Linked DNA regions of Homo sapiens: regions 2, 3, 4 and 5 are each linked to region 1. The links come from fine-mapping of genetic effects on gene expression. A gene starts in region 1. Each other region holds a variant in brackets. All regions are shown on one strand. Distances are between the middles of the regions.

Evidence for each region. PIP is the estimated chance that this variant, and not a neighbour inherited with it, causes the effect. A credible set is the group of variants that fine-mapping cannot tell apart.
Region 2: its variant is the best candidate, but not a certain one, in a credible set for the expression of NHSL1 in thyroid (GTEx, PIP 0.80).
Region 3: its variant is the best candidate, but not a certain one, in a credible set for the expression of NHSL1 in pancreas (GTEx, PIP 0.53).
Region 4: its variant is the best candidate, but not a certain one, in a credible set for the expression of NHSL1 in esophagus muscle (GTEx, PIP 0.88).
Region 5: its variant is the best candidate, but not a certain one, in a credible set for the expression of NHSL1 in monocytes (Schmiedel 2018, PIP 0.54).

What each region holds. Positions count from the first base shown.
Region 1 is chr6:138,495,795-138,502,236 of GRCh38, reverse strand. NHSL1 (NHS like 1) reads left to right here and starts at 2,743. Exons shown (of 8, transcript NM_001144060.2): 1 at 2,743-3,004; 2 at 5,866-6,018. The coding sequence starts at 2,947.
Region 2 is chr6:138,423,919-138,430,360 of GRCh38, reverse strand. NHSL1 (NHS like 1) reads left to right here. Exons shown (of 8, transcript NM_001144060.2): 7 at 518-650; 8 at 5,545-6,442. The coding sequence ends at 6,280. Among named protein-coding and RNA genes, the nearest start is that of MIR3145, 8.2 kb to the left of the region's middle. RefSeq lists an enhancer at 1-177. The variant G/A (reference allele first, on the strand shown) is at 3,049.
Region 3 is chr6:138,532,802-138,539,243 of GRCh38, reverse strand. It overlaps a transcript of NHSL1 not described here. Among named protein-coding and RNA genes, the nearest start is that of NHSL1, 37 kb to the right of the region's middle. RefSeq lists an enhancer at 1,098-1,267. The variant C/T (reference allele first, on the strand shown) is at 3,085.
Region 4 is chr6:138,541,241-138,547,682 of GRCh38, reverse strand. It overlaps a transcript of NHSL1 not described here. Among named protein-coding and RNA genes, the nearest start is that of NHSL1, 45 kb to the right of the region's middle. The variant G/A (reference allele first, on the strand shown) is at 2,552.
Region 5 is chr6:138,595,643-138,602,084 of GRCh38, reverse strand. It overlaps a transcript of NHSL1 not described here. Among named protein-coding and RNA genes, the nearest start is that of NHSL1-AS1, 93 kb to the left of the region's middle. The variant A/G (reference allele first, on the strand shown) is at 2,518.

The DNA of each region.
Region 1 (6,442 bases):
CTTTCAAAATACAACTTAATATAGAACGCAAGAAATGTGATAGTTTATTTGGTTTATTTCCTGGAGATCTGGATTTTATGGTGTTATGTGGCAGTGTGGAATAATGCACAGAGGATGAGACATCCTAGGATGCCGGGATGGAAGCCTGCATTCTCCCCCAGGTTTACCACTTACTCGTGTGTAACCAAGTACAGTTGGCTCTCCATATCCACAGGTTCCACTTCCGTGGATTCAAGCAACCATGGAACAAAAATATTTGGGGAAAAAACCACAATAAAAGTAATGCAGCAATAAAAAAAATACATATTTTTAAACCAATACAGTATAACAACTACTTACGTAGCATTTACATTGTATTAGGTACTATAAGTAATGTAGAGATGATTTAAAGTATATGGGAAGATGTGCATAGGTTGCATGCAAATACTACAGTATTTTATATCAGGGACTGGAGCATCCAAGGATTTTTGTATCCAAGGGGCATCCTGGAATGGATACAGAGGAACAACTGCGGCCACTTTATATCACACTTAATATTGAGTGAGAAAGGAAATTACCCCATGCAAGATTCTTCCTACAGTTCATTTTCTGAGAGGAAAGAGCACTTCTCTAGTCCTGGGGGATGGAAATGTGTCTCACAGCCTGAGGAATCTCTCTCTCTCTCTTTAAAATGAGAGCCAGTGAGATTCATTACACAGTTTTGTTTTCTTGCCATTGCCTCCTTCAAGGTTTTGCTCAAATCTCGACTTTTCACGAGGACCACCCTGACTCCTACGATGCTGCAGCCTGGCCACCCTCAAACCCCCTTTTATGTTGCTTAACTTTTTTATTTTGTCTGTTGCACTCAACTCCTTCTAATATACCACAAAATTGTAGTTCAGTGTCAAATAATTTAAGCTCCATGAGGGCAGGGATCTCACCTATTTTGTCCAATGATGTATCCCAATGAAATGAAAGAGTAGCAGTTAGCATCGGTGCCTGGTATTTATCTTTCTGATGAACGAATCTATATTCAGATGCCATTGTTGAGCACATGGAAAGCTACATGCTATGGAGGGTTGAGCATAATCAGAGTTTCTTGAAAGAACAATTTCTGTTTTCACTGGACATTTGCATGGTGACACTTAACCTCAAACACTTGTGGATTGTGCATATGAGTGTTTTTGCCCACAACTCTCCTTGTGTCTAATGCAATGAGCAGAGCGAGGTCACTCTTGCAGATAAATTTGTTTTCCAAAGGGGAACTTTGCCCGCTAATTTAAGGCAGCCACATAATCTGACTTACAGGCTCAGTCGTTTCTCATTTGCCATCTGGCAATTTAATTACTTTAAAATAAAGCTATATATAAAATGAAATAACACAAATTGGAAATCTGTGATAATATGTATGATAAGATGGTAACGTTTCTATGTGTTCTTTTGTTTTGTTGTTGTTGAAAAAATAAAGGGCATAAAAAGACCTGAGAAGGAATCATTTCAAAGCTTTCCCCTATGTGTTCTTTTGTTTTGTTGTTGTTGAAAAAATAAAGGGCATAAAAAGACCTGAGAAGGAATCATTTCAAAGCTTTCCCTAGACAGAGCCCCTTATATAAATTTTATTCTTTGACTAAGAGCCTTTGTTATAAACTAAATGTTTTGAATTAGTGGATTATTACATTTTTCCATTGAGTTATAAGTCTGGCCCAAAGCTATGAAATAAGAGGTTGTCTAAATTGTTTCAAAAGTGTTTGGCCATGAAGTGGAACTGGGCTGAGATGTGAGGAAGATTCTTTTCCTTTTTCCGTTGTCATAGTATTTCCGGATCTATATTCTCCTCTTTTTTCCTATCCCTTTACCCCTGGAATATGTTTTTTCAGTGCCTTCTTATACTCTGTTTCTGATTTCTCTGTCTCTACTTGTGCTTCCCTAGTTCTCTGTGGTTAATTGCCAATGGGCAAAAGAACCAGCACTCTGGATGGTAGATTCAAGTTAAAGAGTAACTCAGATAATGTTTGTTTGAGACAACATTGAGGGAAGGGCGATTATGGAATTCTGAAAACCAGGAGCCTAAGTGACAATTACATATAAAATAAAGATTAAAATGATTAGGGTACTTTATCTAATTTATCATTTGGAGTGGGGAAGTTGTATTTTTTTTGGTGGATTTTTTTTTTTCTTGATTGTTGTGGCAGCTAGATGCAAATAAGATCATGCTTTGGAACACACAATGCTGATTCTCAATCACTGGCAAAGAAGGGTGAGAAGACAGAGCATCCTAATTTGCACAAAAATGCAACCAAGTCATCATTTGCAGCTCCTTGGAGATTCTATTCTAAAGTTTTACTGCTTGTACAAGTTCCTTTGGTATCGGAGGCAGAGCCTGGGGCGTGGTTGGGAAACAATAGTTTGGTTTTTTTCCCCCCTAAATCAGTTCAAATCCCATATACCCTGAATTAACTGGAATTGCTGTCAGACTTGGCAGCTCCTGTAAAAGATCTGGGTGTTCATAGGGGCCTAATGAAATGGGGAACACATTTGTTTCATCTTGACTTCCGTAGAGGAAAGTCTGCACTATTTTTGTGGGCTCAGAGAGGAGGAACTTCTGATCTGTTGGAGAGAAAACTGAATGAATGGGCACTGAGGCAGAAAGCCTGATGTGGCTGTCATGCAAATAAGAACCGTGATTGGCTTTCTCTTTCTTTCAGCGCACGATGTCACTGGCTGCTCTCAGCCTTAAAGATTAGGTTTCAGTAGGAGTTTTTCAGGTTCAAGGACTGTTAATGGTTTGTAACTGCCTGACAATAAACTCAACCTCAGTTACATCAGCCTGGGCAGATGTCTAAGGATATGAGACCGGGGGAAGAAAAAGTTAGAATCTGTAGCAGAAGGACGAAGCTTGCCACCTGCCTACTGGGCTGAGCTTTTAATGTGATTTACATTTCTAAGCTCTATGTAGGTGCCCTGGAAATGGTGGTCTTCATTAATGCAAAGATTAAGTCTTTAATTAAACTTTTTAAGAAGAAAAGTAAGTAGTTCCTTTTCTCTCTACTACCTATTGTGTGCATATGTTTCCATATGTGTATATGTCCCTGTGTGTCTGTGTGTGTGTGTGTGTGTGTGTGTCCATGTGTGTGTTTTAGGTCCTTCGTTCTTTTGTGTGAAGAAATTAGAGTGTGAAACAGCGTAATAGGCATGAGTTAAACTCTACTCTATACCAGGTTGTTTAAATACCTCAGACTTTTGTAACTCTAGGACAGTATTATGTGATCTTAGCATGTCTTATTTATTTATGATTGGGGTTTTAAGTGAATTCACTTCTTCTGTGCTTTTCAAAAGAAGTCCTTTGAAGAGGGGGGAAATTCTTGTACTTAATTTATGTTTCCCTTGATATCAAGTGTATGATTTTTTGATTCTTTGGATAAATATGCAGCTGAGGTAAGGGAGCCTCTGTGTAATGTATCACATATTTCTGGTGGAGATAATCCCCTGAAACTCCCTGGCACTCTTTGTTGTGTATTTAAGAGCTCGAGCACAAACTGTCTAGACTGATCAGTGATTGTTGTAAGGTACAGAACTTTTGTGATGTGGCTTTATTGTGTACTTACCATTGACTTACATTTCTTTAATGTAGGTGCTTCTTCATTCTCTTGAAAATAATAATTTTTATAACTACTTGGCTTTGTTTTTACATAGTCGGTGGTTTATTTTATTTTAGTTTAGTTTAGTGTTTGGACCAGTGACTTATACTGGATAAATGAACATGGGTAGGGGCATTGGTAAGAGGAGCTTTGGAGAAAGCTACAAAGAGCAGCACGGTGGGCTGATTTTCTGCAGCTCCTTGCTAAAGGCTGCCTTTGGATGAACAGATTAAAAGTGGCCCTGGCGAGAGTGAGGAACACGAGGGGAAGAGACTTTTTCATAGGAGCCAGTTGGTAGCTGTGCAGTGGGGCCGATGGTGCGATTGATGGTGCAGACACGAATGCCATTACTTGGATTTGATTTGAAATTGTCGAATAGGAAAAGTTTCCATTTTCAATAGTTTCTAACTCTGAAGTATGGTAACTCAGTCTTTAAAATAAATGGACATCAGCACAAAACACTGTGATGAACTCTGGCTACACTTTGGGGGGACATATGGTGAGTTTGGCCCAATGCTAGATTCTTCTGAAACACAAATGAGGGTTAAGTCAGGTCTTTGTGGATTTTGTGTATTAAGATTGATAGTTGTATGCACCATGCAAAACATTTGCTCAACAAGAGTTTACATGAAATACTAGGTGCCAAATTCACATACTGCTTTTGTCAAATACTAAGCAGAAAGCACAATGGACATTTCTGTTTTTAACTTGATATCTAGTTCTCAATGTTTATTTTCTCATTTAGCAACTTACGGAGAAGGTGGGGTCCTTTTGAAAATGAGTTATCCTGTTCAGATTCATAAGATTGTAAAATTTAGTAGCTGCAGAAAAGATGGTATGTGAGATGAGCGCTAGCATGTGGCCCAGGTTTACAAGAGACAGTGACAGTTCAAAGTTTGGGGCCTCGTTAGAATAATTTTTACTGTTCCTGCCACAACCATGTTTTACCTGAGTTATTTCTTGAGCTAAGTACTTTATGTATATTGGTTCATTTGATCTTTAGAGTAGCCCTAATAACTGTGCTATAGAGTATGTTTAGTGAATTTTAGATGTGCTCAAATGGATTTAATAGTTTATGCGTGTGTTCTCATGTTACTTTGAGAATTCATTTTATGGTCTAGTTTCCAGGTACATGTTATGTTGGGGACATGGATACGCCCAGTGTGAACTCTATAGCATAGATCAGAGTCAGGAAGACTTGCTCCTCACTCACAATTCAAGTATCTGCTGGCTTTACAGGGGTTAGACTTGCTACCTCAAGCAAATGCCTCAGCACAAGGACTTTCTCCAGTACCTTTCCAGTCTCTCTTATGCCTGGGTTACATGGCAGGTATATAGAAAGTATTAAAACATTGTTGATGAATTTGTTTTGGTGCTGTCGGCCTCATTTTGGGCTCCACTGATGCCCCAACTTAGCTCGTGTTGTCAGGAAAAATGAACTAGAGAGGTCTCAAGCCTCCGAGGATTTAAAGAAAAATTATTGTAGAGATTTATCTTACTCTCAGGATTTTACCTGTTATTTTGTCCTCTAATGTCTTGGTCTCTTCTGTGCTGGGAAAATTTAGTTGAACTGGATTGTGTTGGGAAGAGTCAATTGCATTGTAATTTTAAAAATGTTTAATATAAAAGGGTTTCATGAAAGCAAGAAATGCAGAGAGAATTTTGTAACACAAATGGGTCTCCACATGTATTAGCTATGTCATTTACATGTAAATTGAATGTTTACGCTTAATTTTTTAAAAATGTAATTGAGTTTATAACAGTGATGCTCTTTAAATAATGCTGTAGAGGGAGAATATTTGTTATAAACCTCCTGGTAGGAAATTCATTTCTATCAGGACAGTCTAACATTTACTGTTGCGATGGCATTATACAGTTGAGTAACTGCTATTTGTTGTGTGTGTGCGAGGGGGGTTAAGTAGGAATTGGAGGTCTCTATCAATTCTGTCAGATGTTTTCAAACATTGGAGTAAAGGGAGGACCTAAAATGCTGGGAAGCAGTTAACTGAGCAAATGATTCTATGAAAACATTGTTTGGAGGGTGGACACTTTCAGCTTTTCTTTTATAAGTAAAACACTGTGGGCGAGACCCCTGGAATCTAAGATTAAAACTAATTTAGGATTTGCTCCATTGCTCCCTTGCTGGCCCTTACCCGTGGATGTGTTAGACATGGAAACACATCATGATGTAATGAACTCGTAGCCAATGAAGTTGACACCTGAATGTATTCTATCTTTTTTTCTATAGCGGTTTCCAACCTAGATGAGGAAAGCCGATGGACAGTCCACTACACTGCCCCGTGGCACCAGCAGGAGAATGTGTTCCTTCCCACCACAAGACCCCCCTGTGTTGAGGACCTGCACCGCCAAGCCAAGCTCAACCTCAAATCAGTACTGAGGGGTAAGATGGCATCCTCTGTGAGCTTATTTTCTTGGGTTACTGGCTGCTGAGAGCATAAATTTGATATCTATTTATAAAACCAGCTCTACTTTTATTGAATGTATAGTATGCTACGTCTTTATACGATATCATAAATACAACCTAATACATGCTGATATGGTTTGGCTGTGTCCCCACCCAAATCTCATCTTGAATTGTAGCTCCCATAATTCCCCTGTGTTGTAGGAGGGACCCAGTGGGAGATAATTGAATCATGGGGCCAATTTCCCCCATACTGTTCTCATGATAGTGAATGAGTCTCATGAAATCTGATGGTTTTATAAGGGGACACCCCTTTTGCTTGGCTGTCAATTCTCTCTTGTCTGCCGCCATATAAGACGTGCCTTTCACCTTCTGCCATGATTGTGCGGCCTCCCCAGCCATG
Region 2 (6,442 bases), 72 kb after region 1:
GCCCTCTGCCCATATGCAGCTGAACCAGATAGGGTTGTTGAATGCTCACACGTGGAAAGAACCCAGGTAGATCAGATTCCTGTTAAAGCTAGCAGTATGTAGGCTTCCTGTGTTAAAACACAGATTAAGTTACCAACTTTGCATTTTGTTATTATTTTTAAAATCTAGACCTAAAGGCATGGCAGAAAATAGGGGGATGGAGATGATCTGCAGCAGGCTGGGTATTAAATAGCAATGGGTAACACCTCCCTTCCGAAGAGCCGCGCAAAGAAACGTTGCAACAAAATTTAAGAGAGATGCCATGGGCGTTCCATACTTTAACAAAGAATGAGCTCTGGCTCTCAGGCTAGTGTCATTTCCTCCCTTCTTTGTAAACTATCAAACTACAGACCCACGGCATCTCCCTGTGGTTCTCACATTGTCGGGAATGGCAGGGAAGCAGCATATTTAGAAGCTTGGCTGAGGACTGAAATTCCAGTCACTTGTGCGTCTTGTATGCCTGCCTGCTCTTCTGTAGCTGGGGTGCCGGAGACCAACGCAGCCGGTTCATCCTCAGAGGCCTGTGACTTCCTCAAGGAAGACGGGAATGATGAGGTAATGACCCCCAGTCGACCCAGGACCACAGAAGACCTTTTTGCAGCTATTCACAGGTATTTCAAACTCCTTCCTCTGACTTTAATCTACTGTGTAATTCCTTCTTTCCAAGCAGCACCTCAATTTACTTTTCTTCCTTGAGGTTTCTTCTGTCACCCAATCATAACTCCTTAACTTTACTGTTGATTTTTTAGTGGGTTTCTACAGTTTTATTTCCTCTGGCTCCAATTTCTGTTTTACTTTGTCTCACTGATTTTTATGACATTGGGGACAGTGGCTCAATGTGATACGTTCTGGTAGGCGCTGCTCTTCCTGGCAAGGAGCGCAGTGTGGCAGTCATAAGACAGAGTATATTAGCAAGAGTCGGATTAAAGTGACTGACAGTGCAGTCAGGAGGAGGAATGCTATGTTCTGTGGACTTAGGATGCACAGACTAGCTCCATGGGACTCTCTTCCTAAAGATGTTTTAGTTTATTCTAATTTTTTTCATTTTACAGAAAAACCACAGTTATACAGAGCAATTTCTTTGGCTGCTTAAGTGTTTCTATAAAAGAGTACGGCCCTTTAAGCGGGAGCAAAAGAATGACTTATGCTTGTTAATATACCACTAGTGCCATCTACTGGCATCAGAAATCGTTGGGTTTAAAAACAAACAAAAAGGGTAAAATTTTCAAAGTAATGGCCTGAACTGTTACACTTTTTATATGTGGTCACCTTTAAGAGTAAATATGATTTAGCACTGAAGTTTTACTTACTGCATCACTTTTCTGATTGGAAACAGCTGACTACTCCCACACAGTGTCATCGTAAAAGCTGATGACTGTATATGTGCAACTACGTTAAGCCGTAATGCTGTATAAACCTTTTGCTTCCTTCTAGACTTCTCTACCACGGTATTTCCAGGTAACTCTAATGAATGTCCTTATGCTGCCAAGGCCTTATTTTGCCCTGAATGAAGATCCTTTCTTTTTTTTTAACCTCCTGAAACAAAGCATCCTGTAGAATCATTTGATTCTGTGTGTGAATGATCTTATGTCAGCACTGCTTTCCCAATTCTTGGACTCTCCCTGAAAAGACTATTGCATAAGATGAAAAACATAGTGCTGTACCTACCTGAAACTCTTCATGCAACACATTAACATCTAACTTGGTGTGGGGGGAACGAAGCCGGTGAATTAATGTTCTTGTCAAGAATTACGCTCTTTACGTCGCTCCTCTAGTGTTGGTATAATAGATCCTAAAGACTGCCCCTTTTAACATGGACTGGTTTCTTCAGTCTCATTAGAAGTGAAAAGGTAGCTGGTTGTCCAATTATTTCTCAAAACAGAGAAATGATAAATGATGCATCCTTTGAAACTTCAGTGGCAATTCTAGAAGTTCCCATAGATGTTTCTAACTCTTAACCACGCTAGACACATAAGAAGCACTCAATAAATATTTCCTGAATTAAATGAAACCAACTGGTATTTAACCATTAGAAGATTCTTCCAAGACTCAGAGTATTTCATTTAGTATGGAATGCACTGGGTTGCTAAATATACAGGCATATCTGTCTATTTATAATAGCCATCCACAGAGAAGATTTGCGTAGCCTGGTTGTTCTGTGTACTCGATACTTGGTTCCAGTGAGGAAACCCAACTGTTGTGGGTCCAAATTACTGCATATTTTTTCCCAAAAATATGCCAAAGGCCTCTTCTATATTTTGGCAACCTTCTTAAGGCATCGAAAAATGTGTTGTTTCTCTTACTAGGACGTTACATCGACTGCAGATGTAGAAATCGGTCAGTTGGTGTTACTCAGTGCACGTATGAGAGAAGTCAAAGCCAAATAGGCCTTAGGAATGGATTGCAGAGAGAGAGTGAGGACATATGCTAATTTCTGTTGTAGCGTTGAGAATAAATTAGCAGACATAGTAAAAATCCATCTACTGTCTGTGCTTTTTTAGGGCTTTATTTTTATGTCCTTCAGCGCTTAAGCTCATAATTTAAAATAAAGAATATCTAAGTTGAAACACAGCTTCCAAATTTTATAATGCAAATTAATTCGCTTCAGATTTAAAGCCAGATGGAAAATGTAGAACACCAGTTGAGGTGTGAAGTTTTTATATTTATTGAAGTAATTAGTTTTAAAATCAGTGTTAACTGTTTAAGCACTTTTTATAGCTCTCTTCATTAAAAATACATATTCGTGTGTGTGTGTTGTGTATGTATATGCAAAGAATTTGTACATTTAGATTTAATTATTTTAGTGGGCACCTGCTCTTGAGAGATGACAGTGCTTTCATAAAATCCCATCTTTCTTCCTTTTTTTTTTTTTCTTTTTGATACAGAGTCTCACTCACTCTGTCACCCAGGCTGGAGTGCAGTGGCGCGATCTTGGATCACTGCAACCTCTGCCTCCCAGATTCGAATGATTCTCCTGCCTCAGCATCCCAAGTAGCTGGGATTATAGGC[G/A]TGTGCCACCATGCCCGGCTAATTTTCGTATTTGTAGTACAGACATGGTTTCACCATGTTGCTCAGGCTGGTCACCCCATCTTCTTTCTTAATTCTATGTCTACAATTAAAGGTCATAGTTTTACTCAAGTTTAGTTGTGACTTGTTTAATGGATCTCAGCATACTCTCACCGTTTAAAATCTAAATTACAAATTAAGTCACCAGCCAATACCTAAAAGAATGAAATGAGCAGAGCTGCTTTGGGGAGTAGACCATGTAAGTGGTGAGGCCATGTGCTATAAGCTCAAGTCCTAGTTGTCATACTAACAAGTTACCTTTTCTCAGTTACCTTTTCTGAAACCCAAAGTGGTTGGACTAGACCATTTCTAACGTCTTTTCTAGCTCTACAGTTTCGAGATGTTAGGATGTCTGTAGTTTTGTCAGCCGGTCCTAACTCTTATCAGGGCAGACTGCTCTTGTTAACTACTGAGTGGGACCATGAAACCTGTATGGTAGGCCATGTTCTGCAGTCCCAAAGAGTCTGGTGCCCTGTCCACTCTGGCCACCCTTCAGACCCTGTATTGGGTCCTTACCATTTCCCAGCCTCTGCTTTAGTGGCATCTTTTTGACCAGAAGAATGGAGATGACGCCAGGAACACCAAGCCCAGGGCAGCCAGCATGGGCCCATGCTGCCCTCTGTCTTGCTGTGTAAGCCACGTAAAAACTAAATCCATTTTCTATGTGACATTCAAAGGTTTGTTAAGCACCTGCTCTATGCCTGACCAATTATGGCTATCACTGCATTCATGAGTACTGACAAACTGTGACCTATATACTGTTATTCCCCTTTTGGTGATAGGAAAAATACACAGTCAGAAATGTTAACTTGTCCAAGGTGACAGAACAAGGAAGCTTTAGCAGTGGGAGTTATGTAGCTAGCTTCTTTATTTCACTTAATCTTCACAAACCTGTGAGGTTGGTATCTTATAAGTGAGGAGGCATGGCATGCATGGGTAATTTGTCCCAGGTCACACAGCGAGAGGTGGGAAGAGTCTGGTTTCAACTCTTAATCTGTGTGTACAGATATCATACTCTCAACCTTTCCCTGCTGCATATTCTACAATTTTATAGCAGGAAAAGAGATATACCCACGTCTTTATTCTATTAACTGTGTTGAGTTTCCTTAAAGCAAGTTCTCCTGCACTTAGCTAAGAGACACAGACTGAGTTGTTGTCATGAAGAGACCAGCAAGGGGCCACTTGGCTCACTGGCTTTATCATCTCTTTGTCACTGGCAATGGAAAGCACATTGAACAGTGAGGTTCTCAGAGACTCAGGACAAGAAATACCTACAGGAAACCTTCAGCTTTCTTTGATTGCCCCTTCGTCTTCCCCACCCCACCCCACCCCTCACATTTTCTTGATCAGTGCAAGGTTTGCTGAGTCGATCATGAAGCAGGGTCTGGCATGGAGGGTTCGCCTTTGTTTTCTGGAAGGCTGGATTTTAGAAGTTGGCACATGGTCCTGGAAGAGCTGAGGAAGACTGGTCTGACGGCAACTTCTAGAATAACTGAGAATGTGAAGCTGAGGAGTTGTTCTAGGACCTGGAGTGGGGTACATCTTAGTACAGGGGATATTCTGGCATGGAACAAGAAAAGGAAGCATAGAAAGAAAGGAGGGTCAGCATGTGAAATTCACTCCGGATCAGCCCGTCTAGGAGAGATCAAGGAAAACTGGCCATTATTAAAACTTTTGGTCCTGTCCAAAGTAAGTTAATAGTGTCTAAGATTTGTTTCAAATAGGGAGGGTGGAGACAAAAGAAGGGTGACCGTAATTAATGATTATCATAGGTGAGTTATGGGCTCATGCGGTCTTGCAGTGAGCTGTTCTCTTTTGTGTGGGTGTTTGAAATTTTCCAAAGTTAAAAATAAATTATTTGCCAGGCACAGTGGCTCACGCCTATAATCCCAGCACTTTGGGAGGCCGAGGCAGGCAGATCACCTGAGGTCAGGAGTTTGAGACCAGCCTGGGCAACATGGCAAAACCCCGTCTCTACTAAAAATACAAAAATTAGCTGGGCTGGGCATGGTGGCAGGTGCCTGTAATCCCAGCTACTTGGGAGGCTGAGGCAGGGAGAATCGCTTGAATCCGGGAGGCAGAGGTTGCAATGAGCTGAGATTGCGCTATTGCACTCCAGCCTGAGCGACAGAGTGAGTCTCAAAAAAATAAAATAAATTATGCATTTATTACTTTTTCTTTTTTTTTGAATAGAGATAAGGTCTTACTGTGTTGCCCAGGCTGGTCTCGAACTCCTAAGCTCAAGTGATCCTCCCACCGTGGCCTCCCAAAATGCTGGGATTACAGGTGTGAGCCACTGTGCCCAGTCAAAAATAAATTTTTTGAAAGTGAATCTTAAGTAGATGGTGACCTGAAGATGCGATAAGAGCAGAGTGGTTGTGGCTGACAGCCTGTGGTCCCGTGGGAATTAACCTTTTTCTTAATGTTATTAAATCTCAGATCCAAAAGGAAAGTCCTCGGCCGTAGAGATTCAGATGATGACCACTCCCGAAACCATTCTCCCTCCCCGCCCGTGACACCCACCGGCGCTGCCCCAAGCCTGGCCTCTCCAAAGCAAGTGGGGTCGATTCAGAGAAGCATCCGAAAGAGCAGCACCAGCAGTGACAACTTCAAAGCTCTGCTGCTGAAAAAGGGCAGTCGTTCAGACACCAGCGCCCGCATGTCTGCAGCAGAGATGCTCAAGAACACAGACCCTAGATTCCAGAGGTCGAGGTCAGAGCCTTCCCCAGATGCCCCCGAGAGCCCGTCAAGCTGCTCCCCAAGCAAGAACAGAAGGGCGCAGGAGGAGTGGGCCAAGAACGAAGGCTTGATGCCTCGGAGTCTGTCCTTTTCCGGCCCCAGGTACGGCCGCAGCCGAACGCCGCCTTCTGCCGCCAGCAGCAGGTACAGCATGCGGAACCGGATCCAGAGCAGCCCCATGACCGTCATCTCGGAGGGAGAAGGGGAAGCCGTGGAGCCTGTGGACAGCATAGCCCGCGGGGCTCTGGGCGCTGCGGAGGGATGTTCCCTGGACGGACTGGCGAGGGAGGAGATGGACGAGGGCGGCCTGCTCTGTGGGGAGGGGCCTGCCGCCTCCCTGCAGCCCCAGGCCCCCGGCCCTGTGGATGGGACAGCCAGTGCAGAGGGCAGAGAGCCCTCCCCACAGTGTGGCGGTTCTCTGAGCGAGGAGAGTTAGGGCCAAGAACGTAACTCTCCCAGGTGACACGGGGGGAGACGAGCAATGCAGCACTCTAGGAAGCCTGCTAGGCGCCCTTCCCTGGCTCACCCGGGGAGCCCACTCTGCTTCTGTGCTGTGGGCCCCGGGGTTGCCAGCCCTGCAGTGTGAGTGAACGGTTAT
Region 3 (6,442 bases), 37 kb before region 1:
GGTGGAAGATGGGTAGTCTTAAATTAGGAACATTAATTATTTTATAAAATCGTATGTAGCAATTGCATTTAAAATTAAGAGATCCTAATTTGACAGCCAACAGAATGACAAACTATTTGATTTAATGTCAGCAGTGTTCATCTTCTATCTGGTGATTATGTGACATTTATCAGTCTTTGTTAACTTAGATTACATTTAGAACTTTTTTTGTTGTTGTTACTGTCAAAATGTGGTTAACCCTGAGATCCATTGAAACAAAAGGCCTGAGTGACTTGACTGTGGGTTTAACTTGGGGGAGGGGGTGCATGATAACAGAAATGTGAGTGCTCATCACCACTTTTTCTTTGGAATGTCTTCTTATAACAAAAAGATATAAATAGCATAAAGTGAGCTTTAGGAGCCACAAGTTGTAGTACACTTTAAGTGAATTTATATATACACAGAATAGTTTTCAAAAGGTCAGATGATAACATATGTTTGTACTTGTGAAATTTTGCAAGACAGCATTTGAGAGCAAAAGAGAAAATCTCGGCTTTGCTGACCACAAGAGGCCATCTATGTTCTTCATTATTTTGTTTCACTGAGTGAACTGTGCAAGGTTCATTGTTGCTGGAACTTTCAGAATAAAAGTTGGGACAGACGCCTCTGCTCTCTCGAGGGCGCGAACATTGGGAGCAGGTTCAGGGGAGGATGAACAGTGACTTAATGTGTGGTCTCTTAGGAAAGGGAAGGCAAAGGACCACAGGAGCCTGGCTGACGAGCCTGGCAGATGCCCAGAGGATGCTTGACTTGGTAGAAGATCACGTGGGGAAACTGGGTTATACCAGACACTGAGAGTAGCAACTTTTCTAATTCCAAACAGAGCAAATGAGAAAGGGGCCTCAGAAAATGCCTTGGTGTTAGCTATGTGGGATGGCATGGCAAAAGAAAATGAAGTATATGAACACACCTAGCCCCCAGTGGTGGTACTCTATCTCTCCTTCCTTAGCCATCTCCTACAGATTTGCACTTTTGCTTTATCTAGACCCTTTCCTAATTTTAAGAGGACAAAGGAAGCTCAAGTCCCTTCTTTTTTCCTGGAAAAGTTTTGCTGTAACAGAATACCCAGTATTTTATGCAAAAGAGATCAATATTGTCCCAAGGTGGCTAATTTATATGTCAAAGGGTATCCAAGATTTGTCGACATTTTGAAATACCTCTGAAGTTCATCAACTCTGACCAAAATATTTTGATAGAATTTGGGGTGTGTTATTTCATTGCGTGTTGATGAGCACTTACCATGTGCCAGTCACTGTTCCTACCCCCAGGAAACTCTTCCTGTCTGATGCTCTGGACTTCTCGCCGGCCTGGATCTCTGCAGCCCCAAGACTTCTGGTTGTTTTCCTGCCCACTGTAAAGGTGCTACTGCTTGTGCCAGCTTTTGGCGGTTCTTTCTCCAAGATTGACTTTGGGAACAAAGCAAAGCCAGAGACTTTGTAAAGGGTTTCCCTGCTAATCATGACCCAAATAACAAAAATAATTAACACAGGTTTGTAAAGAATATTCAAGAAATCCCAACTCTATCCGTTAATCATATCATCTTATCCCTTGAGTAAAGATCTCCTTAGCTCTGAGAATGGATCTGCCTAATAAAATATTGAGGATTAAGTAAAGCTTACATAAGATGCTGGTATTTTCTCTGTAATATATAGTGATGTTATTTAAATTTGACCTCTCTAAGGGCTTAATTTGGTCTTTGAAAGTGAAGACTGATTTGTACCCTAATTTGCAAATGTAGTATTTCTACATAGTGAGAAAGGCAGATGTATTTCTCAGTTTTCATCACAGCATATTTACGCCAACTTTTAAAAAGTTTTCTGGACCTACACAGTTGTATAAATACATCCAGATGAATAAAAAAGTATTACAAGTCACATATATTGGCAAAGGAGCGTGGTAGCAACACAAATATTTTGAAAGCTATGTAAGCCAGTGAGAGTATCCTGATACCGCTCTAACAGCTCCAACGGAAGTGTTTGCTGCCACAGCAATTGAGACAAAACCTTTCCTTTTTGGAAATGTTTCCTGGCAGAACAAATACTTGATAAAAATTTAAAACAAGATTTGAACTGCTCAAGATGGTGCCTTTCATAAAATTGTTTTATTTTTACAAACTCTTTCCACATCAGGAAGAGAGAAATCTATGGGTGGATGGTTTTATCCTTATATAGGTGGAAATGTCCTTATTTTAGGTTGACTGCTGTACTGAGGAATTGGGAATGAGCTCCCCTTAATTATTGGGTTATTTCTCTTCTCGTTGTATTTCTTCTTCTGTCAGTAATTGGCAGCCTATTTTTCATCTTAGAGAGAAGAGGCCAGGGAGTGTAAGAGCTGTCCACCTGAATTGTCAGTCAGTAAATTACGATGGAAGTTTAAAACAAGTAGCATACTCAGAAGATGACATATGTCTGGAGTTGGGGGAAAGAGGAGGGAGAGCATTAGGACAAATCCCTAATGCATGCAGGGCTTAAAACCTAGATGACGGGTAGATAGGTGCAGCAACCCACCATGGCACATGTATACCTACGTAACAAACCTGCACGTTCTGCACATGTATCCCAGAGCTTAAAGTGAAAAAAAAAAAAAAAAAAAAAAAAAAAAAGATGACATATGTCCCTCTCCAAAACCACGGAATCTATAAATGCTGAAAAGATTGAATGCAGATGATTAAATTTGTGATGTCTGTAAGCATGATTTAAATACAAAACATTAGTTTGATGTTTGCCATCACTTTTAGGTTTGGGTTTACAAGACTGCTCCTATAGAGATGGCTGCTTTTCCGTGTCCAGTGAGAACTTTTAATGCTAAAACATCCAGTGTCGTTTCTGCTTGCCACAGAAAGTCAATGTTGGTTGGTATGGCAAATATCATAAATCCTTATTTGTATGTTATTTGACTTACGATAACACACTTGGCTGAAAATGAGTTTGTCTTAGTCGCTCCCCAGTCCTCACTCACCTTTGTGAAACCATAGAATGGATCCATTGTTGGTGTGTTATCTGCAAAAGATAAAGTGTCTATGAGCTGGGGAAAAACTGGAGCCCC[C/T]AAAATAAATGAGATTCCTTTAACACATGCCATACCACAGGTTTCTCCCAGACTGCTGTTTTGGACTATGTTTGACTAGATTTCCTTTACTCTAATTTTCCCTTGCCCTCTTTTTAATTTTGGAAAGCTACCTTCAACCTCTGTGTGTGAGTAGCCACCCTCCTTTGTCTCTTGCTTGACGTTGGCCCCCCAGCAACTAGCTCAGTGTCATGTCTAAAATTAGATCAGTCTGTATGGATGCCCTGTAGGGAAGTGAGAGAACAGGCTCTCTCTGCCAGAGCAGATCCTCACCACACAATGAAAATTCTCAGTTTACGATAATTCCTAGTCAATGTCATGAGTCTTTTGCTGTTTTACAGTAAGGCAGTCTGGTATTTGGTGTACTGAACTGCAGATATGAATATCTAGCTGCCACATTTTCACCTGGATGTCTAACTGACCTCATGAACATATCAAAATTCCTGTCCCCCACCCCTATCTATCCCACTGCAGACTTCCCCATTTCGTGGCAAATCCACCCTTCCAGTTGCTTATCCCAAAAACCTTGAAGTCATTTATGACTTCTTTTTTTGGTAAGGGGGTGTCGGGGAGGGGAGACAGGGTTTTCTTGTTCTGTTGCCCAGTCTGGAGTGCAGTGGTGCAATTATGGCTCACTGCAGCCTTGACCTCTTAGGCTCAAGTAATCTTCTCACCTCAGCTTCTTGAATAGCTGGGACTACAGACATGCACCATCATACCTGGCTAATTTTTTTTATTTTTGTCGAGGTGGGGTTTTACTGTGTTGCCGAGACTGGTCTCGAACTCCTGGGCTCAGGCAATCCTCCCGCCTTTATCTCCCATAGTGCTGGAATTATAGGTGTGAGCCACTGCGCCCAGCCAACAACTACTTTTTTTTCTTATTCCTACATTCAATTTGGCAGAAAATTCTATTGACTATATTAATTTTTTTCCCCATTATCTGACTACCTCTTACCATCTAAACTGCTACCTGCTTGGCCTGAATTTCACCTGGATTATCATAATAGCTTCCCTTTATAGCCTACTTTCAACCCAGTAGCCAGAGTAGATCTTTTAAGACCAGCGATATCGTGCCAGTCCTTTGCTTTAAAGCTTCATTTCACTCGGAGTAAAAGCTCGTCTTGGCAATTTCTCTTTATTTTTGAAATATCAATCACAGGCCTGAAATAAACCTAGGAGGAGAAAGTCTGTTTTCTAAGCTACAGAACTTGCAGCTGCATCAAACCTTTAGTCTGGAAGAAAAGGAAAAGGTTTCCCTGCCGAACTACAGTCCCAGCTGAGTCGTGTTCTTGTTTGATGCTCCAAGAAGGTATGGTCTTTAATGAGACCCCTCCATCTTTTCCTTAATGCAAGTGAGGATCGTTCCACCCCATCTCATTTTATCATTAAAAGTGGCAATCTGTGTACTAAATGCAGCCACAGAGATTTACCTTTGGGCTTTATTGACCAAGTTTGATAGAGTTTCTGTTGGAATTTTGGAAAACTGATTTCCATGGCTTTATTGATAGGGATTAAGTTAGAAATAAACAGCAGGGAGCCTGTAGAAGTTAGAGAACTAACTTAAATGTTGGAGCAGGTTAGTTTTTATTTGTATGCATATATCTGTTGTGCTGAGGTTGATGTGTGATGAATTCTATGAAAAAGGCTCTGCTGGTAAATACAGGGTATTTTACCCTTTCAAAGGGCTCCTTTTCTTTCATAGCATTATTAAAATGGAGAGTAGGATCCAACCCAACTCACTGAGTGGGATTTGCACGTTCTATGGGACCTGAACCCTCTTTTTTTGTGGGGTCGTCATGTACCAAGGGTCCTTTGCTTTGACGACTAGATTGTAAGCTCCTTGAGGGCTAAGTTCATTAACTTGATCCAGAAGAATTCCAGTAGATAATTGCTGATTAAAGGAATGAAATATTAATATTTAATCTAGTTTGGGTAAAAAGACTTTAACCATCACTCTCTATGAAAACAAATGGACTTGTTTGAGAATAGCTTAAAATATAAAAGTAGATTGTACTACTTTCAATGGGACTGAAAATACGCAGGCTATTAATTAGCAGAGCAAGAAAGATTTTTAATTCTGAGTTTCATTTTTTGTAGCAACTCAACCAAAAAATCTGATGAAACAGTTTCAATCATTAATGGCCTGTAGCATGTGGAAGCTGGTCATAGAGGAGGAGAAAAGTTAATGTGTTTCTAGAAATTTAAACATTCAGAACAAATGAGTCTCAGCTTCGTGGTGACTGGAAGGAAGATAAGCATCCCATGTAGCTTCTTGGTCTTAGAAGTGGCAGGTCACCGTCTGGAAAATGGCCCATTGCCTGTTGGCCCTTCTCAAGCATCACTCTGAAGTGGCTACACTTCTCTTGACTAAAAAGGATTAAGGATTTACTCACCAAGGAAAAACACACCCTTTATCTAAGCACTTTCCTGGCTCTTGGGTTTTCAATGTTTTAGAAAAACACTCCAATGCATAGTCCCATGAATGGGCAATTGATCATAGACAGAAAAAAATTATTTTCAGAAATATGAGATTATTTCTCTTAGTAAATCATCATTTAAATGTGTATTTTTTAAATTTATTTTTTATTTTTTTGAGACGGAGTTTTGCTCTTCTTGCCCAGGCTGGAGTGCAGTGGCGTGATCTCGGCTCACCGCAACCTCCACCTCCCAGGTTCAAGCAATTACCCTGCCTCAGCCTCCCGAGTAGCTGGGATTACAGGCCTGGCTAATTTTATATTTTTAGTAGAGACGGGGTTTCTCCATGTTGGTCAGGCTGGTCTTGAACTCCTGACCTCAGTGATTTGCCCACCTCGGCCTCCCAAAGTGCTGGGATTACAGGCGTGAGCCACCATCCTGGCAGTAATTTTTTAAAATAATAATATTCATTGAAATTTTATTTCATTTGGTCTTTCTACCCTTTGTTCTAAATTTTTAGGTCCATTTGATTATTTTCTAGGGTTCCCCTGTATCTATTTCTTTGTATTGCCATTACATTTGTTCCTCATTTTCTCTAAATGTGTTCACAATCAAGTCACTGTGTGTTTTTGTCTGTATTAGGTACTATTTAAGCGAGTTGATTATTACTCAAGACCCCAAGTCAGAGTGCACCTAGAGGTACTCTGTTAATCTGTTGAGTAATTAAGTGCTTAGCTACCGTAAGGACTTCATTCCTTCCCCTTTATTTCTGTGAACTGTTATGGTTATTAAAAGTTATAGGAACCTTGACCTCTGATAGGCTGCCTTTTCAGCTTCTGTCTTGTAAGTGGGCTCATCATTTTAATGTCCAGTTGAGATCTTATTAGATTACACATTCGGGATGAGCCTGGAATCTTCCATGATG
Region 4 (6,442 bases), 45 kb before region 1:
GGCCGGGGATGGTGGCTCACGCCTGTAATCCCAGAACTTTGGGAGGCCGAGGCGGGTGGATCACAAGGTCAGGAGATCGAGACCATCCTGGCTAAAATAGTGAAACCCTGTCTCTGCTAAAAATACAAAAAAACATTAGCCGGGCCTGGCGGCGGGCGCCTGTAATCCCAGCTACTCGGAAGGCTGAGGCAGGAGAATGGCGAGAACCTGGGAGACGGAGCTTGCAGTGAGCTGAGATCACACCACTGCCCTCCAGCCTGGGCAACAGAGTGAGACCCTCTCAGGGGAAAAAAAAAGAAGAAGAAGCGTTAATATCACTGTTCATCATTCCCCATGCAGTTTTTTTTTTTTTTAATCCTAACTAGCTTCTGGCTAGAGACCTCTTATATATTCTTGTGATCATAGAAACTAGTACAGTGACTTCCTTATGGTAGACAACATATTTATTACCCAGGTGCTATTGGTGATTCATGGTGACAGGGAGCAGAAACCCAGCTGGGATATGCTGCACCGTATGTTGAAAACCAAAAGAACATAGAGCATCCTTACTGTGTGGCAGTGAGCACCCCAGGACACAGACAGATAGATAGATTGGTTCTGTGAGTCAGTTTCCTGCATCCTGTGGAGTCAAAAGGAAGACCTGCAAACAGCAACGGGTCCTGTGAACAATGGCCACTTCCTGAGCCAGGAGACTCACGTCTCTGTGGGGAAGGACCACGGGGCCACTTAGGGTTCAGATGGTACTTTTCAAGCAGGGTGCTCCTGAGGCAGTATTTGTGGACTGTTTCTCATCAGGTCTGTCATAAGATTCCTTCTGCCACTTTCCACCTGTGTTTGAGAGTCCACAGTCAAGTAACCTTGAACTTGCCAGAGTGAATTTAGCTTTCCAGTGGAGGGGAAGAAATGTACTGATCTGATCACAGCCACAGTACAGTTAGAAATTCTCGTACTCTAATGCTGCATTTGTTTCCTCATTTGAAAAAATGACATTGCCATAGAAGTGTAACATGCTTCACATTTTTATCCTAATACTCAAGTGGTTTTCTTGTTTTCTGTTTGTTTGTTTTTTGTTTTGAGACAAGGTCTCACTCTGTTGCCTGGGCTGGAGTGCAGTGGTGTGATCATGGCCCAATGCAGTCTCGACCTCTTGGTCTCAAACAATCCTCCCTCCTCAGCCTCCCAAGTAGCTGGGACCACAGGTGCATGCCACCATGCCCAGCTAGTTTTTTTTTTTTTTTTTTTTTTTTTTTTTTTTGTAGAGATGGGGTCTCACTGTGTTGCCGAGGCTGGTCTCAAACTCCTGGGCTCAAGTGATATTCCCACCTTGGTCTCCCAAAGTTCTGGGATTATAGGTGTGAGCCACCATGTCCGCCCCGTTTTTAAATAGCAGTATGTAGTAGTAATGATAGCACTTACTTTGTGCTTATGATTTGTCTGGGACTGAAAGAGCATTTCACATATATTCACTCATTTACGTAGACTCAGACAACAGAGTGCAAAGTTTCCTATTATAATGTGCAGTGTTAATTATGTACCAGTATATGGTGTGTTCTATATTAGAAAAAAAAGGGGAGCATGTGAACAGAAAAGGAATAATGAAGTCAGTGAATAGTAAGTCATAATTAATAGCAAAAGGTTAAACTGAATTGAGTGATTTCTTTTTTGTGTTGTTGATCACGTGAAGAGCTGCATCCGCTGTGGTGGAAAATGCTGAGAGAGAAGCACAAACAAATGGGCTCGCCCTTGGGCTGATCTGCACTGGACTATATGAACGGTGACTGCTAACCCCTGGCTCCTTTCCCCTTTCAAGATGATTGCAGGCTGATTCCATGGTGTGAAATAACCCAGGAGAGATAGGGAGGTGTCAGCAGCACAGCCCAGCAGGCTGGGGATTGGGCAGTGGCTTCCTGGAGTAACAGGCGCTGGCTGGCCGCCCCGCTCTCTGGCAGTGAGCGCTGAGGAGGTGGGCTGGGAGACAGCTGTGCCTAGCACTGCAGGCTTCATCAGACCACAGAGCACAGCCCCTCCATGGAACTGCTGCAGAATGTTCTGTCTGAAAGGTGAGGGGACTTCGTGTCCATTTGGGTGGCAAAGTTCTACTTGGGGAAGATTGTCATTTAGCATCAGAGTCTAAATCACAGAGCTGATTCCAGTAAAAATCAAAGTTTGAGGGAGTTTTGTAAGTATGAAAGTGAAAAAGTCATTGTTCTTTTTTGTTGCAAACAGGAAGAAAGACCTCCTGCTGGGGAGATGGAATTCTCTTCTAGACAGAAAGGATATTTCTGTGTTTGAATGTGTTTTGTGTGTGTTTTGTTATAGACAAAAGTAGCTAAAAGTTTAAAAGAAGGTTTTTAAAATCAACTCAATAAATATAGGAATAGTTTACAGCAGTAGTAGAGAAATTTTCATGTAAGGAGTTGTTCATGTAAGGGTTAGAAGGAGTAGAAAGGGTAAAGGATTCTATTGCTTTAAGCTTTACTCTGTGAACTTAGGAGTGAAATTAATTTGACTATAGAACATACTTCTAGGCTGGGCGTGGTGGCGGGTGCCT[G/A]TAATCCCAGCGACTTGGGAGGCTGAGTCAGAAGAATTGCTTGAACCCAGGAGTTGGATGTTGCAGTGAGCCGAGATCGCGCCACTGCACTCCAGCCTGGGCAACAAGAGTGAAACTCGGTCTCAAAAAAAAAAAAAAAAAAAAAAAAGAAAAGAAAGAACATACTTCTTGTTCTGGCCACATATGGATTATAATACTTCCTAAGTACTATAAGATGGTGATTATATGAGTATATGTCGTCATTCCCTGATTAGTCAAGGAGTATTTTCTCTCTTTAGGCATTTATTTTTTCCGTCAACTCTATTTTTCTTCCAACTCTTATTACAATGTAATTAATGTAGGCATGTGAGAGTGTGTTTGTCTATGTGATTGTTGAAATGGTGGGGGTAGAGGGGGAGATGAATTTCCTTGGAACTGTTCTGTTCATATCTTTCAGTGTATGTCATTCTGTTGATGGGAAATTCTTGACATCTTTTCAAGTTTTGGAAATAAAGTGGTCCTGGCTTATTTGCTTTGTGGATTGCTCCTTTGTCCTCAAAGTCTGTTCATGAGGTATAGACGTGGATTCTGTAGACCCAGGCTTTGCAATTTTAACCTTATTTTGACATCTTAAAACCTACCAGTCTTTAATATTGAACTTGGTGTTTGGGATATTCCTTTATATAGTAGGTGCAAATTTGGTGAAATTGAAGGGGTAAGAACAAAAAGGAACATCACATTTTTCTGTCCTCAAGCATTCAATTAATTCTTACTACAGAGAGTATCTAGTTGCAGTGGATTTCCAAGGAGTCATGGGCTGACATGAATTTAAGTATTTCTGAAAAATAATTTTAGATGAAAGGCATTATGAGCTCTCATGACACTGTTTCTTCCAAAAATTGTTCTACAAAATGTTTAGGTATGAAGAGTCAGTGGTATTATTGGATGAAGGTACATGCTACCTAGTGTAATTTCCACAGTGCAGTTGAAATCATTACAATCCAATGATAGCTTAAGGTTTACAATTTTTAATTGAATACGGTTGTGGAATTGTTACTGGGTAGGACATCTGCAGCTTCAACATATTTTTCTCCACCTATTCCCATAACAGCCATTTCATTTTATTAAAGAATCTCTCATTTTCTTGGACTCTTAGTTTCTGTGGTAACTCAGAAAATTTTAAAAACTCAAACGTATGGCATGTGATGACAACTAAGTGCTTTTACGCTGAAGTGTGTGTTCTAATCAGGAATCCACAATCGCACCCTTTTAAAGCCTACTCTCTGATCTCCCGGCAGCTAGGACAAACAGTTGACATTCTACTTTCTTCCTGTGACTTATAGCTTGTTGATTTACAATAATGATTTTTAAGTTGTCCTTTGCCCTACATATGAAGCAAGCCCATGATAAAATAAGGGTGAGTGAGATTAAGCAGAAGAATAGTAAGAGCTACTTGTTGATGCTTTGTGTTCTTACTTTGGAAAAGTGGCTTTCATTCATTGGTCTGTGGCTAGCCAAGGTCCTAGGGGCTATTGCATATGTGGTTGTGATTAGCATTGATTTTAAAGGAAACATGATTGCTCTTCCTTTGGTTTAAATCATGTTCCTGTGTGTTTCTTGTAATTGCTGAAAGAAAATATTTAAATCAGATCGCTTCCCACATTGATGCAGGATTTCCTTTTCTCTACTTAGACTGTTTCTTTTCTGAAGCCAGGTCTGCTCAGCTTTTTGTCAATTTGGCCTTCCTTGAAGAAGGATGCCATCTTTCTCATTATTGTCACTATCGTAACTTATATAGTTACAATCACTCTTTGCTATTGAAGTATCTCAGATACATCAGCTTCTCCCAACTGCATTTTGTATGTGCAACATTTGAGCACTCAGTCTTTGTGAAGATGTTCTGCGAAGTTCAGCTAAGGTCTCTGTGGCTAACAAAGGCATGGTACGTTCCTTCACTGTGTAGCAAGTGATCCATTATGGTCTGGGAAGTGAATTATGGCTAATCAAATAATATGATTAATAGCGAATAATATGATTAATAGCAAACTACCATGTGTACCATTCACAGATTATTCTAAGACGTAGAATAGGCCAGGTGCCATGTCTCAAGCCTATAATCCGAATGCTTTAGAAGGCCGCGGAGAGAGGATCACTTGAGGCCCTGAGTTCGGGACCAGCCTGGCTAACATAGGGAGACCTTGTCTCCACAAAAAATTAAAAAGTTAGCCAGATGTGGTGATATGGAACTGTAGTCCCAGCTACTTGGGAGGCTGAGGCAGGAGGATTGCTTGAGGCTAGGAGTTCGAGGCTACAGTGAGTCATGATTGTGCCCCTGCACTCTAGCCTGGGCAATAGAGTGAGACCCTGTCTCGAAAAAAATGTTTAAAGAATAAATAAAAATTAGAATAAAATGTTTTTACTACTAAAGCTACGTGGAACATAATTACACTTCTCTGAAATAGTTCTGAATGTAGATTTCTTAATTATGGTACATCAGCTTTAACTTTATAAATACTAATTATCTTTGCAGTGCTTCTCTAACTTCGGTGAAGACTTTTTAAAAGAAATTTCCAAACCATTACAGACTGATGTTTTGTAAAACACAAAATCATGTGCTTGTGTGATATCACCACATTGTCAAACAGCTATAAAAGTTCTTAAACATTTAATCTCATTTCCTGTACTAATCTAATTGTGGACTGGTAGTGAAGTATTGTCCTACTGGCACTGGTTAGTAGACAAATCTGCATTAGTTTCCCAGAGCTGTCATAACAAATTACTGCTTAGTGAGTGGCTTATCCAGAAATGTATTCTCTCACAGTTCTAGAGGCTAGAAGTCTGAAATCAAGGAGTTGGCAGGGCCGTGCTCCCTCTGAAGGCTCCAGGAAAGACTCTTCCTTGCCTCTTCCACTTCCTGATGGCTCCAGGCATTTCTTGGCTTTCGGTAGCATCACTTGAGTTTCTGCCCCTCTTCCTACCGCCTTCCTTCCTGTGTGTTTCTCTGTGTCTCTGTGTCAGATGTTTTTCTTAAAAGGACACCACTTATTGGACTTAGGGTCCACCCTTAATCCAGTATATCACTTCACCTTAACTAATTACATCTGCAAAGACCATATTTCCAAATAAGGTCATATTCCAGGGTTGTGAGCGGACATGATTTTGGGAGGACGCTATTCAACCCAATTCAGTGGACCGCATGTAAAATCACATAGCCTGAGGGCAGCTGCATGGGAAGTGTGTTTAATGGAAAACTGTAAGAATGATATCCAACATAGCTGCTTTGAGGATGCCTTTGAAACTATGGCAATGCAAATTTAAGATGAGTTTGTATGTGTAGGTAGAAGAGTTGAAAATGTACATACCCATTATGATCAGTCATGCAAAGGAAAATGTTGCCTTTTTATTTCCTTTAATCGATTCGGCTTCTTTCATGAACTTTTATCCCGCTGAGAAGGGGAAAAACAAAAAACAAAATTGAACTTAGTTCACTGCAGTCAACTCAGTGTGAGCCAAAAATTTAAACAGTTGCATTAGATAGCTCAGTCTGTTGGATGACTCAGTCTTTCAACATTCTCCTGCTTATCCTCCTTCTCTTCAAAGGGGACTCTGTTGCTAAGTCCCCCTTATTAGTATAACAGAAGTAAACCATGCTAAAATATGTACTTTTGAAATCATTGGTGTGATTGTTACACAATGTTGAAAATTTTAAAGCAGACTCTCTGCTGTTGAGTTTTAAAAACGAGGTAATATTTTTTAAATGATGTTGCTTTTATTCTTATTTTTTTTGAGACAGAGTCTCGCTCTGTTGCCCAGGCTGGAGTGCAGTAGTGCGATCTTGGCTCACTGCAACCTCCGCCTCCTGGGTTCAAGTGATTCTCTTGCCTGAGCCTCCGGAGTAGCTGGGACTACAGG
Region 5 (6,442 bases), 100 kb before region 1:
TAAGCCTGATATTTCATCTTCACATCTTAAAAATCCCAGCTTAATTAGTAGTTACCATTTTTCTGTATGCTGCTATCTCATTGTAGTCCTGTGAAATAATGATAAACTTATCGGCTTTATAGGTTTGCAGTCTGATAGATCTTTCAATGAAAAAGTTAAAGTGTGTACATTTTCTTATTCTTTAGCCTTAGTTTTTTGTTTTTGTTATTAAATAAATTCTTGAGTTTTTGTGATACTGTTGCTGGATTTAAGAAAAACTTTTTTTTTCTTTTTTGAGATGGAGTCTCGCTCTGTCGCCAGGCTGGAATCCAGTGGCGTGATCTCGGTTCACTGCAACCTCCACCTCCCGGGTTCAAGCGATTCTTCTGCCTCAGCCTCCCGAGTAGCTGGGACTACATGTGCGTGCCACTACACCCAGCCAACTTTTGCTTTTTTAGTAGAGACAGGGTTTCACCATGTTGGCCAGGATGGTCTTGATCTCTTGACCTTGTGATCCGCCCGCCTCGGCCTCCGAGAGTGCTGGGATTGCAGGCATGAGCCACCGTGCCCGGGCAAGAAAAACTCTTATAATCAGTATTAATCATTTTAGATTCACCTAAGAGTAAATTTTTTAAAATAGTACTCCTCTTGTATGAGTTTTCTGCATAACAGGTGCAATTGAGCAATAGCCACACAAGTGTCTAGGGATGGTGCTGAATGTGTAACAAAAGGTTAAAGGGTTTTCTAACAGATTGCCAGCAGTGTTTTACATTTCCTGAATGATCTAAGTGTTGGTTTAGCTTGGGACTGGAGAACATAACAGATTTAAAAAATAACAATGAATATGGTTGCTATGTCAGAATTAAAGAGTTATTTAAATAAAGTCAGGCCAGGGAGTATAATCAAAAGATTCCCAACAATCCTGGTGAGTTTTACTTTAGAAGAAAGTTCTGGGATAAGTGATTCAGATTTATAGTGGAACCAGATTTTATGTTCATTTCTTTCCAGTTAATCCAGATTCTATTTTATACATTTAGTACCTTAAAAAGTAAATGAAGGGACATACATTTGAATGGAATCCTTTGTTTTCTATTGAATTTAATGCTTTCATAATCATTATGAGAAAATACTTTCAAATGATTTACACATGATTTAGAAATGCAGGCAGCCCTTTCCAAGTGGTTATTGTATTCTGACACACAGTGATTTTTGTAGATATATCATGTTACAGAATGAAGTGGCCATTTTTGTGGGATGAATTTTCTAAAGAACATGTTGAAATATTGGAGGTTAGGGTTATTTTAAAACATGAGTTTCTTCTCTCACAAATTAAAGTGTTTGATCCCTATAATTGCCAGACTATAAGCTCTAATAGGGATAGTAAGATCTAAGTGTTGGTTTAGCAACGACATTAAGAAAATTTTAAGTATAGCTCTGAATTTAAAAGGTATTAATATTATTTTTCATTTAAATTGATAGTAATTTCATGAAAAACAAATGGCTTAAACCCAGGGAAGCAAGGATTATAATTGATTTTTTTGAGCAATGTTCTCTTTTGGTTACAAAGTAAAAGGTAAAATAAAAGTTTAAAAGCATTTGGAAAGAATGTTCTTTGGTTTTTTCACTCAGTAACCTAAAGTTTAATGACCCTTTACAGTGCTGATAAACACTTAAATTTTTGCAGTAGGCATTGCTAGTTCAAATTGAAGGAAGGTTGCCAGGCTCATGCCTATAGTCCCAACTACTTAGGAGGCTAAGGCAGGAGGATCCCTTGAGGTCAGGAGTTCAAGGCTGCCATGAGCCATCATTGTGCTACTGCACTCCAGCCTGGGCAATAGAGTGAGAACTGGTCTCGAAAAGAAAAGAAAAAGAAAATAAAAGAACAGAAAAGAAAGCACTGAGTGGACCTTAAAATACCTCTGTGTTGCTTCATTTTAATTAATTAATTAATATTTTTTTTTTGAGATGGAGTCTTGCTCTGTTGCCCAGGCTGGCGTGCAGTGGTGCAATCTTGGTTCACTGCAACCTCTGCCTCCTGGATTCAAGCAATTCTTCTGCCTCAGCCTCCCTAGTAGCTGGAGCTACAGATGCATGCCAACATGCCCAGCTAGTTTTTGTATTTTTTTAGTAGAGATGGGGTTTCACCATGTTGGCCAGGCTGGTCTCGAACTCCTGACCTCAGGTGATCCACCCGCCTCGGCCTCTCAAAGTGCTGGGATTACAGTCATGTCATGAGCCACCATGCCCGGCCTGCTTCATTTTAAAGGTACTTCATTCTTCCTTGTATCCTGAAATCTCTCAGCACCAACAGGGAAGGCATTTAGGTGACATTGGAAAGTTACTTTCTGATGCCTTCTATAGGTACTAAGCTGACCCTGCCTGAGATCTTGCCTTGAGATCTGATTGGACTTAACTGAGCATTTGTGATTTGATCATCTTAAGGTATCTCAAGCACTGAATGAGAAACTGGAAGTTTCTTGTGTATCTGGGTTATACACTTGGTCCATTCTAATTTCAATAGCACCATTATTTCTGCAT[A/G]TGTTATATAAGGAGAAAAAGACCTTAAAGAGTTCTAAATCTTTCTGTTTTTTTTTGAGACGGAGACTTGCTGTGTTCCCCAGGCTGGAGTGCAATGGTGCAGTCTCGGCTCACTGCAGCCTCAGTCTCCTGCATTCAGGTGATTCTCCTGCCTCAGCCTCCCAAGTAGCTGGAATTACAGGCACCTGCCACCACACCCAGCTAATTTCTGTACTTTTAGTAGAGATGGGCTTTCACCATATTGGCCAGGCTGGTCTCGAACTCTTGACCTCAGGTGATCCACCCACCTTGGCCTCCCAAAGTGCTGGGATTACAGGCATGAGCCACTGCGCCTGGCCTTACATTTTTTTATATTGTACTGGTTACCATAAAACACTAAATTATGTAGAATTTGTTTTGAAAAAAATATGTAATAGAATCCAAAACAATTAGGTAGCTCAGAATGTTTTCTTAGGTTATACTCTGTGCCTGGGTCAAGAGGTAACAGACAAATAGGATCCAAATTTTACAGCTAGATGACTTGGACACACAGAGAGTAGGTGACTTGCTGATGATTAAACAGGGAATCTGATGGATCTCCAGGCCCTAAGCTCTGACCTTGGACTCTTGCACTTTTTGCAGTCTAATGTTTAGAAACATATGGGTGAACCTGAATTAAAGAGAAATACATGTAAGTCCATTTACTTTAATTTCATTTTCATTATTGTACTTAAGAGTGTGAGGATGCAGTCGTCTTTGAATGAAGGCAGCATTCAGTATTAGTGGGATTGTTTAGCTTCACCCACCCTACCACAAAGAGATGAGGAAACGCTGGACGTTGTTTTAGTCTGGTCAGCAAATCCAAATCTATGAGCATTGTGGAGAAAGGGTCTATGTTCACATATATTTTTAGTAGTTCTTAGAAGAAAGAAAAATGCTGCTTTTTTTTTTTTTTTTTTTTCTTCCAGATGAAGTCTTGCTTTGTTGTCCAGGCTGCTAGAGTGCAGTGGCATGTTCATGGCTCACTGCAGCCTCAAACTTCTGGGCTCAAGCCATCTTCTGACCTCAGCCTCCAGAGTAGCTGGGGCTACAGGTGTGCACCACCACATCTGGCTATTTTTTTTTTTTTCCAAGATGGAGTCTTGCTCTGCCACCCAGGCTGGAGTGCAGTGGCGCAATCTTGACTCACTGCAACTGCCGCCTCCCAGGCTCAAGCGATTCTCCTGCCTTAGCCTTCCAAGTAGTTGGGACTACAGGTGACCACCACCATGCCCGGCCAATTTTTGTATTTTTGTAGAGACAGGGTTTCACCATGTTGGCCTGACGGGTCTTGAACTCTTGGCCTCAAGTGATCCATCTACCTCGGCCTCCCAAATTGTTGGGATTACAGGCGTGAGCCACCACGCCTGGCCTAATTTTTTAAAAAATTATTATTTGTAGAGATGGGGTATCTCTACAATTATTTGTAGAGATGTTGCCTGAGCTGGTCCTGAACTCCTGGCTCCTATGATCCTCCTGCCTCGGCCTCCGAGAGTGCTGGGATTATAAGCATGAGCCACTGTGCCCTGCCAAAAGCTGATTTTTAAGGTGGGGGACAGTTTCACCTGCACCGCCTTCTCTGCTGGAAATCATCATCAAGGTCACTGATGACATTATCATCGTCACTGGGGAAGTGCTGGCATAACCTGTAGGTCAGTGCTTCTCAGTCATAAGAAATATTTTTATTATCTTTTTTCTACCCTGAAATGAGTATCACATAGCCAATATAATACATCTATTCATGCATGCTTAAAAAGTCAATATAATGTCCTACCTGCAATGTAAGGAGAAATTAAAGAAGGCCATTTTTACCTTTTCATATTCATTGCTCACACAAAACTGTACTTACTGGAAGATGGAATGAAACCGTTGGATGCTTACATGTGTGTGGAATTACCATGATGAAAAGCTAGTGACTCAAACACTACAAGCGGTTAGGTGGTCAGTGATATGATTTTTCAGAAATGGTGAACAATTCCTGCCAAAATTCCAAAGTAAGCAAGGAGTCTACACTAGAATAACCAGAAACGAACAACATGTACCCGGGACCTGGAAGTGAGGCGTGTATGGTGATGTTTGATTTGAATTTTGGACTAAAGTTCCGTGATGATTAATAGCACAGGCAGCCAAATGAAAAACTTGTCAAATCAATAGTTACGTAGATTTTACTATTAAAAGGAAATAACAGTATCTGAGATGGAATTAAAATTTCCAGGCTCCTAAAATCATTTCCTGTAAATTCTTTGTTCTTTAGGCTATATGACACCAGATCAAAACTTCGGAAACTAACCAGCCATTTTTATGGATTGATGCTTCATATGCCAGCACTGAATTAGGCTTTTGTATTCTATTCGCTGTTTGCAGGTCTTAACTTTTTGTTTTTCTTTTTGAGACAGAATCTCACTCTGTCGCCCAGGCTGGAGTGCCGTGATGTGATCTTGGCTCACTGCAGCCTCTGCCTCCCAGGTTCAAGCGATTCTCCTGCCTCAGCCTCCTGAGTATCTGGGATTACAGACATCCGCCACCACACCTGGCTAATTTCTTATATTTTTTGGTAGAGACAGGGTTTTGCCACGTGGGCCAGGCTGATCTCAATCTCCTGGTAGGTCTTAACTTCTGATTGCAAGGCGGGAACCCTGAGCACTTCAAACTCTGCTTGAGAGAGTTTTTCTGTCACGCTTAACTCACGCAAGGTAGGAATGAATAATTTGCTGCTGCCGCTGCCTCTAGAGACTATTTTAAAGGATTATCTCATGGAAGCTTTCAGAACTTCCCCCCCACCCCCGCCAATTGAATGTGGGTGAGAAACGGACGTGAACTTAAAAAACTTACCAAGCTTGGTTCACCTCTCAGGAGCAGGTCTGCTTAAATTAGCTGCATTGAGCTCCTCGATGTCCTTTTGCGGCGCTGCTGATTCTTTCAAGAACCTTGGCTACCTTGCCAAATGTATCACTCCTTTATAATCTTAAGCGTTTTAACAAATGAAATACAGTTCAGTTTCTGCACTTGGTTTTAAATGTCATGATGTGTCTCAGCAATCCACTTAGTCCATCAAAATCACATTTTGACTTGTCCACATAATCCTTTTAGACTGTTTCTGGATTTATTAAGTGCTTTTTCATGCAGTTGATGAAAAAGCTTTCATTTTAAAAATAATTTCCACATGACGCTGGAGGCCTCCCATTGTAGTTTAACAATAGTTGAGATGTTGTATTGTTTATTCAAAACTGCCAAGTAGCGTCAGTGCTGGTGGATGGGAACCCTGGATGGAATGCTGGGAGAGCCCTGGGGAGGTAATTTAACCTCTTCGTTGTTCAGTCCTGATGTCCAGTGGGTTTCAGCAGCGTGTCTAGGTTTACTCCATTGCCAGGCAGAGGTAGATTCTGCCTCCTCTGCCCCTTTGCATTCCTTGGATCGACCATTGACTACTGGAAGGCATTCAGACCATTACCTTTCTATGCCTTTTCCTTTGCATAAGACCTGCAAAGGAAAACATACTTTCATCCTGGATATTTTTTGGTTTTAGCTTCCAAGTAGGGTTTATGGCCTTTTTTTCTCTTGGGGTTGGGAAGAAGGGCAGTGTTGGAGAGGAAGAGACCCAGAAACACCACCATGCTAATAATAAGGAGGAGAAAGTCGGGCCATGTTGGAGTCCCTCTGCCAATTATACAGATCGTGGCACATAGGTGCAAGGGTGGCATGGCAACCTCTGGACCCCTCACTTTCCACTTTCTCTTACCCATTGTCTCCATAGGACTCAGCGTTTTGTTTCCGAAATCTTTCAACTTCACCTGTATGCTGTGCTATTCTTACCCATTCATTGTACATAAATATCTTTTCTGCTGATTAAAAAAATTCAAGAAAGGAAAGAGGGAGAGAATCTTTTTATAATTGATTCCAGGTTACC